4 linked regions of the Homo sapiens genome follow. The protein of the gene in region 1 purifies or fractionates together with the protein of each later gene. This does not show direct contact. Each region holds a gene or a part of one and is shown on either strand. Other genes may lie near its edges.

Evidence for each region.
Region 2: the proteins of PIP4P2 (region 1) and VAMP7 purify together in Homo sapiens (affinity purification with mass spectrometry; one large-scale study listed by BioGRID and IntAct). This does not show direct contact.
Region 3: the proteins of PIP4P2 (region 1) and EIF2B3 purify together in Homo sapiens (affinity purification with mass spectrometry; one large-scale study listed by BioGRID and IntAct). This does not show direct contact.
Region 4: the proteins of PIP4P2 (region 1) and EDEM2 purify together in Homo sapiens (co-immunoprecipitation; one large-scale study listed by IntAct). This does not show direct contact.

What each region holds. Positions count from the first base shown.
Region 1 is NC_000008.11:91,030,611-91,034,980, forward strand, and holds part of PIP4P2 (type 2 phosphatidylinositol 4,5-bisphosphate 4-phosphatase), read right to left. Parts: intron 1-4,370. UniProt on the Homo sapiens protein: Catalyzes the hydrolysis of phosphatidylinositol-4,5-bisphosphate (PtdIns-4,5-P2) to phosphatidylinositol-4-phosphate (PtdIns-4-P).
Region 2 is NC_000023.11:155,887,483-155,891,852, forward strand, and holds part of VAMP7 (vesicle-associated membrane protein 7), read left to right. Parts: intron 1-1,975; 5' UTR 1,976-1,984; coding exon 1,985-2,130; exon of another isoform or gene 2,131-2,146; coding exon of another isoform or gene 2,147-2,151; intron 2,152-4,370. UniProt on the Homo sapiens protein: Involved in the targeting and/or fusion of transport vesicles to their target membrane during transport of proteins from the early endosome to the lysosome. Required for heterotypic fusion of late endosomes with lysosomes and homotypic lysosomal fusion.
Region 3 is NC_000001.11:44,853,832-44,858,201, reverse strand, and holds part of EIF2B3 (translation initiation factor eIF2B subunit gamma), read left to right. Parts: intron 1-394; coding exon 395-498; intron 499-4,370. UniProt on the Homo sapiens protein: Acts as a component of the translation initiation factor 2B (eIF2B) complex, which catalyzes the exchange of GDP for GTP on the eukaryotic initiation factor 2 (eIF2) complex gamma subunit.
Region 4 is NC_000020.11:35,140,006-35,144,375, reverse strand, and holds part of EDEM2 (ER degradation-enhancing alpha-mannosidase-like protein 2 isoform 1 precursor), read left to right. Parts: intron 1-1,897; coding exon 1,898-2,003; intron 2,004-4,370. Other genes in the region: MMP24-AS1-EDEM2 (ER degradation-enhancing alpha-mannosidase-like protein 2), read left to right, coding at 1,898-2,003. UniProt on the Homo sapiens protein: Involved in the endoplasmic reticulum-associated degradation (ERAD) pathway that targets misfolded glycoproteins for degradation in an N-glycan-dependent manner.

The sequences.
Region 1 (4,370 bases):
AATTGTTACTCCAACCCTTATGCCCATTCGCCAAGTCTTACTTCAGAGATTTCCACTTATGTTATTATTATGTATCCTTTAAGTATTCCTTGAGTGTAGCACAGGTAATATACACATATACATATTCTCATTTATTCCATCATTCTTACAAAAGAGAGTATGACTTATAAACTATTCTTCATCTCATTGTTTTTTCATTTTACAGTGTATCTTTCCATAACTGTATATAGAGTTTAATAATTTCTTTTCCAGCATCATGTTGTTTCATTCTATGGATATGACATGGCTTATTATGGTGGTTTTACAAAAAAGCCACAACTTCTTTGGCACTGCTCCCATTGAGAGGTAAGGTCTTGAATCTGGGTATTTGTAACTGCTTTGACAAATAGAGGATGGCAGAAATGACATTATATTTGACTTTTGAAGCTGGGTCATAAAAGACCACATGGCTTCCACTTAGGTCATCTTGTATTCAGGCATGTCTGATAGTTTTAATAATGACCTATGTCCTCATTAAGGGATGGTAGCAAATCCAAATACGACTTTTGCTGAGCCTGGCAAGGTATTTTATATAGAGAACTAGAACATGACAACCAAATTCTATAAACTTGGAAAATGCTTTTGTTACAAAACTTTAAAATAACTTTATATTAGTTTGTAAAATCCATACAGCTAATAGAAATCAATGTTTATTTGGATATGTCCAATGGTCTAAAAGGTGTCTGAAAATCTCACTTTAAGTCTACTCACTATCATTTCTCTATATTGTTTCTCCTCTGGATTGTCAGTCTTAGCACTTAATCTCTCAAACAATAAAATGTCATATTGTAACATGCCGTCTTCCAAATTCTCCCCCTGTGGAAATCACATGTTAAAAATGTCAAAAAATTCGGGGCTTTCTTGTACACTGTTTTAAAATCCTTACTACAGATTGACCAAGCCTAAATATCTCAATATGAGAGGAAGAAAAATTTTGCCATTGCCTTTAGAAGTAAATGCTTAGAATAAAATGCCCTAATCAATCATGCAGCACACACATGCAAATATATTCTACAGAGAAATAAAACAGTGCATGCTAGTTGGGCTTCTAATTTTTACAAGAGTCATGTAACATCCTTAATCTTCAATATATTATCTTTCTCATTTCTAAAAGCATACTGGAAGGAATAGCTATTTAGGTGAAAGAGGGACATTGGAAGTAAAAGAGTGAGATAAGAAAGGATAACAAGCATCTACATTTTAAATTTATAGATATATTTTCCTAAGTGTGTCCAGCTTCCTAAGAACAACTGTGTCATAAAATATAAAAGCCAAAGGTAAATTTATAGATATATTTTCCTAAGTGTGTCCAGCTTCCTAAGAACAACTGTGTCATAAAATATAAAAGCCAAAGGAAACATAATGCACCACTCCTTGGATAAATGTGGGAAACTGAGGCCCTGAGATGTAAAGTAACGATTCCAAGGCCAAACAGGTAGTAACTGGCGGAGATAAAAAGCCTCAGGTCTCCCAAGCCAAACACTACCTGGTGGCAGACCTTCTCTGGACTCTAAAGGGAGTTAGTTACACAATACTTGCACAATGCACCTGAAGTCCAGAAAAAGGAACCATGCTTTTTGCTTTTTTCACATTTGGTTGTTGTGGTTTTTACAGAAGAAAAGGAACTCACTTTACAACAGCAACTGGAAAAGAAAAAATCTAGAAAAGTTCAAAAGCAACATAAACTCCTTTGCACACCCCCATTACCACCAAAAATTTTTCTAAAAAAGCATAGAAACCCTCATAAAATAACAGAAACAGCAGGAAGAATGTATTCCTTTTCAGGAGCTACTATGGAATGCCATTCCCAATTTATTGAATACCTCTTACTCATTAAAAATGAAGCACAGGCCAGGCGCGGTGGCTCATGCCTGTAATCCAAGCACTTTGGGAGGCCAAGGTGGGTGGATCATTTGAGGTCAGGAGCTCGAGACCAGCCTGGCCAACATGGTGAAACCCCACCTCTCCTAAAAATACAAAAATTAGTCAAGTGTGGTGGCAGGCACCTGCAGTCTCATCTACTTGGGAGGCTGAGGAAGGAGAATTGCTTGAACCTAGGAGGTAGGGGTTGCAGTGAGCCGAGATCATGCCACTGCACTCCAGCCTGGGCAACAGAGTGAGAGTCTGTCTCAAAAAAAAAAAAAAAAAAAAAGAAAGAAACACAAAACACCTGAGCACAAGGTGTATTCAGGGTTACCTGCTTTTCCCAAATGGAAGTATTACAGTTTCCATTTAGATCACTTCCCAGATAGCTGTTTATTGCCCTCAAAGATAGTTATGAACATCCCTCCTGTTAACTTTCTTCTCCAATATCTATATCCATCTAGCTAACATTTGTATGCATTTGGCAAACCTTCCAAAATTTTAACAGAATGCTCTACCCTACAAGTTTTACATTCTTGAAGAGTCTGCATAGTCCTTGGAAACAAACAGGAAATTGAGAGCATCGTCTCCCTCTCCAGGAAAATGCTACTGTACATTTAATAAATAATTGTTGAATGAAATTTGCTCTCCAACCCCAAGTTTTCTCAGACCTCAGATTTGTACAACAAACTGCCTAATTCACATTTCTAATTGAATAACTAAAGGTATTGCAAACTCCACATGACTGAAACAGAATAGTGACTTCCACTGTTCTTCTCCCACCTCCCAAACACATGGCCAACTCTTCCTCCTGTTTGCCTATCTCAGATATAACCTTGTACCTACTTAGTTGGGTCATTTTTGGAGATTTGTGATTCCTTTCTTTTCACTGACTCAACCCATCAGCAAGTCCTGTTTAAAATACATCCTGACACCAACCACACCTCAGTGCTTCTGTCACCTGTACCCTGGTCCCCTGTTGCCTCTTCTGCTCTAACAGCATCCTGATTAGTGTCATGTCTCATTAGTCTGTTCTCCTCCACATGCCAACCAAGGGTGATTTTTTTAAAAAGTAAAGTGTTTTCATGTCTCTCCTTTGCTCCAACCTCTCCATAGCTTCTCATTATCCTCAGGACATAATCCCTTCTTCAGCAGGTGGAATAGAAATCTCCCCTGGGCTTCCCTCATTTACACCTCGCACCTCCTCTACCTCTTCTGCTGTCCTCTAAGTCACCATGCTCTAACCCACTGTCCCTTGTTTTTGTTTATTTATTTATTTATTTTTGAGACAGAGTCTCACTCTGTTGCGCAGGCTGGAGTACAATGGCACAATCGCAGCTCACTGCAGCCTCAAGCTCCTGGGCTCAAGAGATCCTCCAGCATCAGGCTCATGAGTAGCTGGGACTACAGGCATGAGCCGCAGTGCCCAGCCTCCTCCTTGTTTTTAAAATAGCAAGTGTTATACTTGCTGTTCCCGTTGCCTGGAGCACTCTTTCAGTAAATCTTCCAAAGGCTGATCCAACTCATGTTTCAGGTCTCTCGGTGATTGCTATCTCTGAGTTGTCTTTCCTGGACGCTCATCTCAAACATTTGCCATCCAAACAGTTACTCTCCACCCTCACAGGTTGCTTTATTTTCTTCACCCTCTGAAATTATAACGCTTACTGTATGTATCTCTCACAGGAATGTAAGCTCTCCAGCATCTGGAATACTGTAATAGGCATTCAAATATTTGAAAGGATGACTGAATGAAACATTTCTTAATATTTTAAAGATGCTCAGTATAGACAGAAGGAAATGTGGGCATTATAAAACAGAATATAAGAATCCTGGAGCCTGATGCCTACAGAATAATGACAAAAAGACTACAACAGCAAATGAGCTCACCACCATACTGGAAAGCTAGAAGCCGATCTATTTCACCAATGTGTGGGCTCTATTTTTCCTTGAAGAGGATGTGGCCTCAGTGAAGCAAATTTTGATTCAAGAACCATTTTGAAAAAAATTCCCTTAAATGGAGCATTAGCATTAGCATAGCACAATAGGCTTCTCATATTTGCCAAGGCCCTGCTTGCTCAGTATCACAGCAGGTGAACACTCTACTGGGGCTTGGGGGAGCTTCAGGAAGCTGCTCTCAAATATCCTGCATCCTTTTCTCCTCATTGTGACAATCTGGCTTCCAGTGGGTTTCCGAATCCTTGGCAAGTAAAGTGAGAATTTAATCTAGTCTTACAATGGGTTGTGCATGTGGTAAGAGTCCCTGGATCTGTGTCATCTCTTCCTGCCAATCCACAGACAACCTTATACTCTGCAAGTACGCAGGGAGACTCAGCAATTTAAAAGACTGCCAAAATGTATTCAATCTCTTTAATTCAGTAAAAGTCTAGCCTAGTGTAGAACATAGTTAAAAATGAACTAAGACCTTACCTAACTTTAAACTAAGACACTATCTCTAACCTTAGATTTCT
Region 2 (4,370 bases), on another chromosome or scaffold:
AGAAGCAACCACTGTATTTTGCAATATAGAGGCTGTTGGTGACCTTAGGAAGCATGGTTTTCTGGAGTTTTAAGGGCAAAAGCTGGATTATAGTAAGTAGAAGAGTTGAAAGGAGGCAGAGGAGCAGAGATAATGCGTAACGATGCTTTGAAGAAACAGAACAGGGCCAGGTACGGTGGCTCATGCCTGTAATCCCAGCACTTTGGGAGGCCAAGGCAGGTGGATCACTTGAGCCCGGGAGTTCAAGACCAGCCTGGGTGACATGGTGAAACCCTGTCTGTACAAAAAAAAATACAAAAATAGCCGGACATGGTGGCACACACCTGTAGTCCCAGATACTCCAGAGGCTGAGGTAGGAGGATCACTTGAGCCTGATAAGTGGAGGCTGTAGTGAGCCAAGATTGTGCCACTGCACTCTAGCCTGGAGCTTGGGTGACAGAGCAAGACCCTGTCTCAAAAAAAAAAAAAAAAGAAAAGAAACAGAACAGTAGGATCCACAGTTAGGGAGGCTTTAGGATCAAGGGAGATAAAGTATAAGACAGCAATTTGGAAACTATAACTTACTGCATATGTGTAAGGAGAATTCTAGAAAGAAGATGGTTGAGATCACAACCCTGGGGAACAACTTCAGTTAGAGAGTAGGAATGAAAAAGAGATCCCCAAAAGGCATTCAGCCCAAGAGACAGATGAGCACCTTCTGCTCTGTGTGCTGTCCTTCCATGCTGGGATTGCAATAAGGAATCTGCACATTCCTTGATCTCAAACAGTTTATAGTTTGCTGTTGTGTTTCACAAAGTATGTTTGTGTGAATCACCTGCATCCAGACAGACTTGTATTAAATACAGATTCCAGGGCCCTACCTCAGGCCTACGGAATCAGAATTTCAGGAAGTGATGCCAAGAGTTTGAATTTTTAGCAAATGACTCATACTCTGCCACACAAGATGATTCGTATTCCCACTACAGTTTGAGAACCACTGGTATGTTGGGTACTGAGCATGTTAACAAATAAGAGTAGGTTTAACAGTTAATCGAAGACTAGACAAGGATTTGTTCATCTCTTTTTATGTTTATGCCATTAAATAAGAGAAGCTGGGCTTGTTAGGTGGGAAATAATAGCACATATTCATAGGCAGACATAAGGAAAATAATCTTAAACTCATGCCATATGGTTTTAGTAATGTTTTGTTTATGAAGGGTCTTACCATTCCTTTCTTGTGGAAGCTTTGAGTTATTTTCACTTTGTTTCTGTTATGGATAATGCCTTTATACTGGCAGTGTACAGTAAAAGGCTAAGATTATGAGCTCTAGAACCATACTGCCTAGGTTTAAATTGCAGCTCCACACTTACTAGCTCTGTAATTTGGGGGAAATTATTTAAGTCATCTGTGCTTCAGTTTTCTCATCTATAATAGAAGTATCATAATAGTGTATAATCTCATTGAGTTGTGAGGATTAAATGGATTAATAATTATAAAGTATTTAAAATGGTACCTGGCACATAGTAAACAATAAATATAGGCTATTTTTATTGTTAATAGTTATCTTTGTGAATCTAGAGTCTTAACTTCTGTTGAACTATTTCTCTAGGATAAATTTTCAGGATGGAATTTCTACATTAAAGAATGAAGACATCTTTATGTCCCTTTGCTATCTATAGTCATTGCTTTTCAAAAGGGTGATATCTGTTTGTGCTATAATAATTTGTAAATGCAAGCTATCAATGGTGTGTGTGTGTGTGTATGTGTTTTGTATGTCTCTTTATATGAATGCATACAAGCATGGCTTAGGTTGTAAGTTTGTAGAAAACTTTGACCTTCTTTTTAAGCCTGCTCTTAAGTCTGTTGTTAAGTTTCATGTTATAGTGCCTCGTTAGATACTATCTCCAGGTAGTATGTTGATAAATGATAGTAAGTTACCTTTGAAAGATTATGTCAAAGAAATATTCTAAATCTGTGTCTTTTTCCTTTTGATAGACTGAAGCCATGGCGATTCTTTTTGCTGTTGTTGCCAGGGGGACCACTATCCTTGCCAAACATGCTTGGTGTGGAGGAAACTTCCTGGAGGTGACAGAGCAGATTCTGGCTAAGATACCTTCTGAAAATAACAAACTAACGTACTCACATGGCAAGTGAGTTCTGTTCTGCATGTGGTAAGGGATGAAAGAAGGGAATTCTGTTACTCTAATCAGAACGGTAGAAAAGTAGAAAACAAGCTTCTAGGTACATAATTTGAATAAGCTGACAGAATAGTAACCTTCACCAACTTAGAAAATATATCTGGTTTTGTTACTTATAAATTTAACTTGTAATTATTTTATTCTATTATTGAAGTGATATTTTATTTTGAAGAAAGATGAAATGTTAAATGTAAAAATGACTTTGCTCTAGAGCTGTGTGATATGTGAAAATAATTCAGATAAGATAGATAATGTTCCTTTGTTCATTCTTTCAGTAAATATTTACTGAGCACTTAACTATTGCCAGGCACTTTGCTTGGTGCTGGGGATATAACAAGATATGTGGTATTTGCCCTCATAAGGGTTATAGTTTAATGAGGGAGAAAGTCAAATCCACGATGTCAAGGGTTGGGGGGATGGGAAGTAGTAGATAGGAGAATGGTATTCCAAGTAGAAGGAACAGCAGGTAGAGAAGTATGGAGGCATGAGATCATAGGGCGGGCATATTTAGGGAACTGCAGACTGTTCTCTGTGACTGGTGCCCAGGATGGTGAAAATAAAGCTAGAGAGATGGGTAGAAGAAAAGTCATGTAGGGCCTTGTAGGCCATATTAAGAGCTTGGACTTTACCTTGTGGGCAGTGGAAAGGCATTGAAGGTTTTCAGCCAGGGTGTGACAGAGTCAGGTTTGTTTTATTTATTTATTTATTTATTTATTTAGAAACAGAGTCTCACTCTGTCACCCAGGCTGGAGTGCAGTGGTGCGATCTTGGCTCACTGCAACCTCCATCTCCCAGGTTCAGATGATTCTCGTGCCTTAGCCTCCTGAGTAGCTGGGATTACAGGCGTGCACCACCATGCCCAGCTAATTTTTGTATTTTTAGTAGAGTTGGGGTTTCACCATGTTGGCCAGGCTTGTCTCAAGCTCCTGACCTCAGGTGATTCGCCTGCCTTGGCCTCCCAAAGCGTTGGGATTACAGGCGTGAGCCACTGCCCCTGGCCCTTCAGTCAGTTTTTGCTTTAGAAAGATCACTCTGGTGGCTTATTAGAGTGGCCATAGTTGGGAAATCTTAGTAATTAGTTTTAAAAAGTGCCTCAACCTTCCCCGTTGGCACTTAAAAATCTTTTCTTACTTAACCCAGCCTTACTTCCTTAGTTCTTATCTCAGAATGAGGTCCTTATTACTTTCTATGGCTAACCCCTTATACAGTTTAAGGTGTACTCTAAGCTACTATGAGAGAGACCCCCAAGATACAGTATTAATTTTAATGAGATAGTCCAGAGATGAGTGGTTTGGGATGTTGGGGTGGCTCTGCCATTTCCAATTCCCTAATTCCCAAAGCAATTAGTGCTTTCCACTTCTGGCCAAGGCAGCTCCTTTGGTGCTTGTTATATCCCAGTGCTTGCCCAGTAATTTTAAAGGCAGGGCCCAGAAGTGGCCTGATATTGTTGAGAAGCTTCCACTTACATCTTACTGTTCACTACACAGTCATGTAGCTAGCATAGCTAGAAGGGAGGCCAGGAATTGTCATCTCTGGCTATGTAGTCGTAGGCTCAACTAAAACTCTGTTACTCTGGAGGAAGTTATAGGATATCAGGGGATGACTTGCAGTCTTCCAGTCTACTCTCCTGGCCACCCAGATATTTCAGTGAACCTTTCTTCCCAAACATAGAATACGCCTCTTCTCTGAGAGAGGTAGCTCCAAAGACCTATCTAGTCACTGTGTTTGGCTCCAAGTCCAGCATGTCTAGGTGGTACACAGTCCTATCCATCAGGCCCTGGTGTGGCTCCTGTGGTCCACTGACCATAAAGTAAAAGATAAGTCATATGTTTTCCCTGCTTTCCCAGCCTAACCCAGTAGACAATGGTGAAATAAGAAAAGGATCATCACAGTGAGAGTTACAAACTCCCATTTGGAAAAGGGAAGAATGAGAAACATGTAGAAGTCATTGCTTTCCAGTAATGATCAAATAATTGCCTCACACAATTTCAAAGACTCCCTATTCTGACCAGGAAGTGGTTAGTGGTTCTGCTTTCTTGGAGGAACTCCCTCACCCTTTTTCCCTGACTCCTGGCTTTGTTCTCCAGGAAGTTTTTCCTTTCTGGCCACATCCAAAATGGTAGTTAGAGAGTATATCATCTTTGGGAATTGTACCCATTTTGTAGTCCTCTTGCTGCCAGCGTAGGTTTGTG
Region 3 (4,370 bases), on another chromosome or scaffold:
AGCTACAGGTTGAGGTGGGAGGATCACTTGAACCCAGGAGTTTTAGAGGCTGCAGTGAGCTATGATCACACCACTGCACTCCAGCCCCAGGGCCACAGTGAGACCCTGTCTCAAAAAAAAAAAAAAAAAAAGGAACTGAAGTGAAGTCAGAATATCTTCTTTTCAGGCCTTAGAGAAAGATCGTTATGAGCATAGTCCCAAATCTGGATTTCTCTGAAGCCAGGTCCTCCCTTGGCTTACCATTCTGTCTTCCACTGATAACTTGAGGCACGTAGCCATTAACTGGACTGCCCAGCTGTTCCTGGCCTAGGGAGGAGCCAGAACCCCCAACCAATAGTAATGAGGATGGTGATGCGAGCCTTGGGTCCTCCCTAACTTGGCTACTGTGTTACAGAAGCAATATCCAAGGCAGTGTCATCTGCAACAATGCTGTGATCGAGAAGGGTGCAGACATCAAGGACTGCTTGATTGGAAGTGGCCAGAGGATTGAAGCCAAAGGTAAACCAGATTACAATCACAGATTCCATTTTTACTTCTCACACCAGCACTGATAATGCCAAAGGCTGGTGAGGATGTGGGAAACAAGCACATACGTACACTGCGGGCGAGAACATAAATTGATAAAGCCATCTTTGGAGAGCAGTTGACATCACTGTCAATTTTTTTTTTTTTTTCGGAGTTTCACTCTTGTTGCCCAGGCTGGTGTGCAATGGTGCAATCTCAGCTCACTGAAACCTCCGCCTCCCGGGTTCAAGCGATTCTTCTGCCTCAGTCTCCTGAGTCGCTGGAATTACAGGCATGTGCCACCACGCCCAGCTAATTTTTTGTATTTTTAGTAGAGATGGCGTTTCTCCATGTTGGTCAGGCTGGTTGCGAACTCCCGACCTCAGGAGAACTGCCCACCTCAGCCTCCCAAAGTGCTGGGATTACAGGCGTAAGCCACCGCACCTGGCATCACTGTCAAATTTTTTTACTTTGACTTAACAGTTTCATTTCTAGAAATTAATCTTATAGATAAGCTTATACATGTATGCACCCTTAATCTCAAAACCTTGAAAACATATCAATAGATCTAATGGCCCAGGTTGGCACCAATACTGTACAGTGATTCTTGAAGCCTAGGCACAGTGGTTCATGCCAATAATCCCAACACTTTGGGAGGCTGAAATGTGAGGATCGCTTGAGCCTAGACAACATAGCAGGAACCCATCTCTACAAAAAAATTAAAAATTAGCCAGGCACAGTGGCACACACGTGTTGTCCCAGCTACTCAAGAGGCTGAGGCAGGAGGATTGCTTGAGCCTGAGAGGTCAAGGCTGCAGTGAGCTGAGATCGCACCACTGCACTCTAGCCTGGGTGACAGAGGGAGACCCTGTCTTAAAAATAATAATAAAAATTAAAATGACTGATTGCTTTTGGTATTATTCCTAAACCTAAAATAAGGTGGGGAGGGGAGTTGCTGAAGGAATTAACCCCACCAACTCTGTAGACGCCACATCATTTCCTTCTTCAGTTTCTTCCCCCTTCCCTTTTTTAAAGTCATATGCCTTCCTTTTGGGCTTTAGAATCAAACAGACCTCAGTTCACATCTCAACTCAACTTAGTGGCTGTGCACCAAGTGAAATTTTTAATCATTAAGCCCTCAGATTTTCCTTTTTTTTTTTTTTTTTTTTAATTTTAATTTTTTGAGACAGAGTCTTGCTCTGTCGCCTAGGCTGGAGTACAGTAGTGCTATCTCAGCTCACTGCAGCCTCCTCCTCCTGGATCCAGGTGGTTCTTGTGCCTCAGCCTCCCGGGCAGCTGAGACTACAGGGGCACACCACCACCCTTGGCTAATTTTTGTGTTTTTAGTAGAGACAGGGTTTTGCAATGTCACCCAGGCTGGTCTTGAACTCCTGGCCTCAAGCAAGCCACCCACCTCACTTTCCCAAAGTGCTGAGATTACAGGTATGAGCCACTGCGCCCAGCCCCAGATTTTCTTAATTAGACAATTGGGACAATAATAGCTACCTTGGAGAATTGTGAGAATTACATATAATTAAATGACAGGTATATGCACTACTCCTTGAGTGTACCAAAAGACTTAGAATTCCTCATACATACCGTGCCATTATACCTCTCCATGCTTTTACATGTGCTCTCTCTAGATTTCCTCTCTTGAAGACTCCGACCAAGTGTTTTCTCCTTTGTAGAACCTTCTCTGCCTCTTCCCATGACTCCCCATAGCAGAACTACACATTCCTTCCACTGTGTCCTTGAGCTTTGCCACACCTTTATTAAAGTATGTTTCACAAGCCATGGCAATTATCCGTGAATCAGCCTTCCCTACTAAGATCCTCAAGGTCAGCTGGGCATGATGGCTCACACCTGTAATCCTAGCACTTTGGGAGGCCGAAGTGGGCGGATCACCTGAGGTCAGGAGTTCGAAACCAGCCTGACCAACATGGTGAAACCCCGTCTCTACTAAAAATACAAAAAATAGCCAAGTGTGGTAGTGCATGCCTGTAATCCCAGCTACCTGGGAGGTTGAGGCAGGAGAATTGCTGGAACCCAGGAGGCGGAGGCTGCAGTGAGCTGAGACTGCACCACTACACTCCAGTCTGGGTGACAGAGCAAGACTCCATCTCAAAAAAAAAAAAAAGATCCTCAAGGTCGATTGTCTCATAACTATATGCATCCCTAGCTCTCAGAACAGGTCCTGATTTATGGTAAATGCTCAGAAGGGGAAAAGAGTGAATGAATGAATGTTGGATCCATGAAACATATTTTGGGGGATTTCAGGGTATAAAGTTAGGGTTCCAAGAAAGGCCTCTGTGCGATGGTTGCAATCATCATGAGATGGGCTTCATAAACTCCTGGGCTTTCTGGCTTTAATTAACACTATGTGTCCACCTTTTAGCAAGGAGACCCTTTAATGGTCCTGCTGAAGGAGGGCTGGCCAGGGAAGTCATCTTGTCTGGGCTCTAAACTGGACAACCCCACCACTTCCTTCTCTCTGTCCTCTGCTGGAAGGACCAGTGCATCCAGCACAGTGGTCAGTGCCCTCCTGCCACAGGAACTCCCTGGCCAGTTGCCTTTTTCCACTATTACTTCTTCTTTTTTTTTTTTTTTTGAGACTGAGCCGTATGGTGAAAGCAAACTCCTAACCATCAGTGCAGCACTCAAGACTTGTTACTATAGGTGACCTAGGCAAACACCAACAACTCACATCCTTACCAGCAAAGAGCTCAATAGATGGCAAAGTCTTCCGTCAGTCTTCCTCACATGAAGGGGTTTCAGGAAAAAACATTCATCCTAAGAAATAATGCAGTCTCAGCCGGATGCGGTGGCTCATGCCTGTAATCCCAGCACTTTGGGAGGCTGAGGCGGGTGGATCCCTGTGGTCAAGAGTTCGAGACCAGCCTGACCAACATGGAGAAACCCCATCTCTACTAAAAATACAAAAAATTAGCCGGGCGTGGTAGTGCATGCCTGTAATCCCAGCTACTTGGAAGGCTGAGGCAGAAGAATTGCCTGAACCTGGAAGGCAGAGGTTGTGGTGAGCTGAGATCACGCCATCACACTCCATCTTGGGCAACAAGAGCGAAACTCCATCTCAAAAAAAAAAAAAAAGACATAATGCAGTCTCCTCTCCAAATTCTAATCATTTTCATGCTCCAGAGTCACCACATCCATAGCAGTCTTTTTCCCCAAAAGTATGGCTCGTAACTCAGTGTAGGCCTCCCTACCCTCTTCTAGCACCAACACGAAAACAAGCCATTTTATAACAACTCTGACTTTTCTCACCCCATCCCAATACTCTCATTGGTTATCTCTGGCAAAAATACTGGCAGCCAAATTTGACCTTCTCAAGCAGTAGAATGGCTACAGCTAACAGTCAAAACCTAAAAAATGGCTGGGTACAGAGGCTGTAGCTCACGCCTGTAATCCCAGCACTTTGGGAGACCAAGGCGAGTGGATCACTTGAGGTCAAGAGTTCGAGACCAGCCCAGCCAACATGGTGAAACCTCATCTCTACTAAAAATACAAAAATTAGCTGTGTGTGATGGCACACACCTGTAATCCCAGCTACTTGGGAGGCTGAGGCAGGAGAATCACTTGAACCTGGGAGGCGGAGGTTGCAGTGAGCAGAGATCATACCACTGCACTCCAGCCTGGGCAACAGAGCAAGACTCCATTCAGAAAAAAAAAAAACAAAAAAAAAAAACACTAACTGCTAAAAGCATGCTTCATCTGAGTCTCTTCTTACAGTCAGTGACAGAACTTGGATCTCTTCCCTATGGCCAGAGTGATCAGTTCTTTGACCATGAAAGTAGACCTGGTATAGGTCAGGCTGTTGATGTATACTTGACACAGGTCAAATCCTCCTG
Region 4 (4,370 bases), on another chromosome or scaffold:
GGTGACAAGAGTGAAACTTCATCTCAAAAAAAATTATAAAGAAATAATATCAGTGACTAGTTAGTATGTTTCTGTAGGGCTTAGTACAGACATGTATTAATTCTTCTAACAACTTCTTGAGGTTAGTACCTTTACTCCTTCTTATCGTTAAGAAACCTGATGCTTAGGGATGGGCACAGTGGCTCACGCCTGTAATCCCAGCACTTTGGGAGGCCAAGGCGGCAGGACTGCTTGAGCACAGGAGTTCAAGACCAGCCTGGGCAATATGGTGAAACCCCGTCTCTACCAAAAATATAAAAAATTAGGCATGATGGCACATGTCTGTGGCTCCATTTGTTAGGGAGGAGGGTGAGGTAGGAGGATTGTTTGAGTCAGGGAGGCAGAGGTTGCAGTGAGCCGAGATCGCACCACTGCACTCTGGTCTGGGTAACAGAGTAAAACCCTGTCTCACACAAACAAAAAAAAGATATAAAAGAAACCTGATGCTTAGAAAGGTAAAAAGGGCCAGGTGTGGTGGCTCATGCCTGTAATCCCAGCACTTTGGGAGGCCAACATTGCTCAAGTCCCAGAGTTCGAGGCTGTGATGAGCTATGATCACACCACTGCACTCCAACCTGTGTAACAGAGCAAGACCCTGTCTCAAAAAAAAGACTTGGACTGGTTCAGGTCAAGTACCCACTCCACAGCTAGAGGGATGGGATCAGCCTCTCCCAAACCACAGGAGTGACTGCCGGGGAAGAGTGATTCCTCGAGGGTAAATTGAGATGTTACTATCAAAAGAAGAGAGATTGAGATTGCATTTGGCTAACGGTTTAAATAAAGAGGGTTTATTTTCTCAAGTAAAAGAAAGTCTAGAGGTAATTTCTAGCATTGGGTCAGCTACGCAACTGTGTCATTAGAGACCAGCCTCTTTGTAGCTTTGCATTCTAGTATCGTTAGTGTTTTGGCTTTTATTCTAATGCTTAGTACGTCATGGTCTCACATAGCTGCCATCACTTCAGAAATCGAGTCTGAGTTCAAGGCAGAAAGAGAGAGACTAAAAGCCATGTTAGCTGTGTTTGTCCCTTGGTATTAAGAAAACAGAAGCCTTCCCAGAAGTGCCCCCAGTAGACCTCTCAAGGGTCAGAATTGACTGGGTAACACAATCAACTGCAGCAGCAAAGGAGGCCGAGAAAGCTTCTGGATTTCCAACCTCTGGTGGGAGGCCATGAGGTAAAGAGGGTAGGAATGAATTTGTTTTGGGCCAACCAACCTGTTCTGTTTTCCACAAGGTTGAAGGTGACAACTGGTATCTACTGCAAATGTCAAACTAAGACTTTTGGCCAGGTGCGGTCGCTCACACCTGTAATCCCAGCACTTTGGGAGGCCAAGGCGGGTGGATCATGAGGTCAGGAGTTTGAGACCAGCCTGATCAACATGGTGAAACCCCGTCTCTACTAAAAATACAAAAATTAGCCGGGCATGGTGGTGCATAATCCCAGCTACTCGGGGCTGAGGCAGGAGAATCGCTTGAACCCAGGAGGCGGAGTTTGAAGTGAGCCAAGATCACGCCACTGCACTCTACCCTGGGCAGCAGAGCGAGACTCTGTCTCAAAAAAACGAAACAAAAAACCTAAGACTTCTATGCGTAGTTTGCGTTCTTTATATTGTGTCCATTTAAATGACAACATCGTGACTCTTAATTGGGACCTAGGAATTTACTTAACCAGTCTCTTGGTATGAAGTCTCTAGATGATTTCTAGCTCTCAGTGTTTTCTTCTGCTGTCACCAATCCTAGGACAGAAACTGGAGGTCTTAAGTGGAATTAGTGAGGGCCACATCAACATAGGATCCCAGACTCTGAATCTGCCTCCATGCATGTAAGAGCCTCATTGTCAGGTCTCTTTTTTATTTCCAGATTTTGGGGAATGTCTCAGAATTCCAAAGAGTGGTTGAAGTGCTCCAGGACAGCGTGGACTTTGATATTGATGTGAACGCCTCTGTGTTTGAAACAAACATTCGAGGTAAGGGCTGCTCTCTAGGACCTTTAAAAGAAAAAAGAGTGTGAAGTTGCCTCTGTAAACCAAGAAGTGGTAAATAGGATTTTAAGGACTGACCATGCCAGGACCCTTGGCCAAAACCTCTGACCGACAGAGCTCTTCTTCCCTCCTGGAGGGTGAGGTGGGGAAGTCTCAGGATTTCCCCATCAGTTTCAGATATGAAAGTGAGCAGGAGACTAAGAGACTGGAAAGAAATACACCAGATTACTCACCTCTTTAATATGTATTTGATACTAGGCATACAGCTATGAACAAGAAAGATATGATCCTTGCCTTCTTGGAACTTATTGTCTGTCCAATCCAATTTTCTGCAGTGATGGAAATGTCTTATAGCTGTGTTTTGTCCAGTATGGTAGCCACGAACCACATGAGCTATTGAGCATTTGAAATGTATCTACTACAACTATGGAATTGAATTTTTAATTTCATTTAATTTTAATGATATTAAATTTAAGTAGTCACATGTAGTTAGTGATTATTGTATTGGACAGTGCAAATCTACAGCATTAATCTTCCAAACTTGGCAGCCCATAGGAACCACTCCCAAGTGGTTAAAAAATTCAGATGTTGAGACTCCACCCTAAACCTAATGAATTGGAATCTCTGTGTTGGGTCCTAGAATCAGTATTTTTAGCAGACTTCCAGTGATTCTTGTGAAGCCAGCACAGCCCTTATTTGCATCGAACCTCTAGACCACTTAACAGCTGTCACCTCTGGATGGCAGAGTTCTATTTTTCCCCATTATTTTGTATGTTTTCTGCAATGAAACTTATATTCCAGACATATGATCCATAAAAGATTAAAAAAGAGAAGAGAGCAGAGGGACAACATGGTCTAAAATCCTGGTTTAGGAATCCGGCCTGAGTTTGAGGCTGTACTTGCTGCTATGTCTCCCAGCTTCTGAGCCCAGTTTGTCATCTGTAAATGAAGGTCATTCTTATACCTTTATTTCTGATAGGAATATAAGTGATACCAGCTTTCTTTTGGTTGACATTTTCCCATGTATCTTTTTCTATCCTTTCCATCTTTCTGTAGTTTTATGATTAGATACATCTTTTGCAAATAGTGTATTATATTTTGTTTATCCATTCTGACAATCTTTAACTGGCACATTTAATCCATTTACATTTACTGTAATTACTGATATATTTGCACTCATTTCTACAGTATTGTGCTCTCTGTGCCGTCTTCTTTTTTTTTTTTTTTTTTTTTTTTTTGAGGCGGAGTCTCACTCTGTCGCCCAGGCGGGAGTGTAGTGGTGCAATCTTGGCTTACTGCAACCTCTGCCTCCCGGGTTCAGGCGATTCTCCTGTCTCAGCCTCCTATGTAGCTGGGATTGCAGGTGCCTGCCACCGTGCCCTGCTAATTTTTGTATTTTTAGTAGAGATGGGGTTTCACCATGTTGGCCAGGCTAGTCTCGAACTCCTGACCTCAGGTGATCCGCCCCCCATCAGCCTCCCAAAGTGCTGGGATTATAGGTGTGAGCCACTGCACCTGGCCCTGTGCCATCTTCTTTATGTTCCTTTATTCTGTCCTTTTTCATGCCTTCTTTAGATTGTTTTCCCCCCATTCCATTTTCCTCTTACTAATATGGAAATTATGCACAATATCTAGCTTTTTACATAGTTTTCCAAGCAAATTTAACAAACATAACTTATCAAAGTCTAAATTTAATGAAAATCTTTGTTCTCCTCCTGAATAATGCAAAACCTGACTTAGAGAACATCCTGACCTATATGCTACAGTTATATATTTTAGTTATTTGTTTTAAACCTTCCATACATTATAATTTTTGTTCTATATTGTTGAAGTTTTGCATTTACACATAAATTTACCACTTTTTTTGTTGTTGTTGGTTTGAAATAGAGTCTCACTCTGCCACCCAGGCTGGAGTGCAGTGGCGCGATCTTGGCTCACCTCCACCTCCTGGGTTTAAACGATTCTCCTGCCTCAGCCTCCAGAGTAGCTGGGATTACAGTTGTGCACCACCACACCAGGCTAATTTTTGTATTTTTAGTAGAGATGGTGTTTCACCACATTGGCCAGGCTGGTCTCAAACTCATGATCTTGAGTGATCCACCTGCTTTGGCTTCCCAAAGTGCTGGAATTACAGGTTTAGCCACTGTGCCTGGCCTATTTACCACTTTTTTGACTATTTTTTCTTTTCGTGTCTCAGACCTTTTCTCTAAAGTATTTCCTTTAGAATTTCCTTTAATGCAGGTGTGTGCTTCATAAACATTCCCAGCTTTTGTTTATATGAAAATGTCTTTATTCAACTGCCTTTGGTTGGCCTTTGAGTGATATTTTTGCTGGGTGTATGGTTCTAGGTTG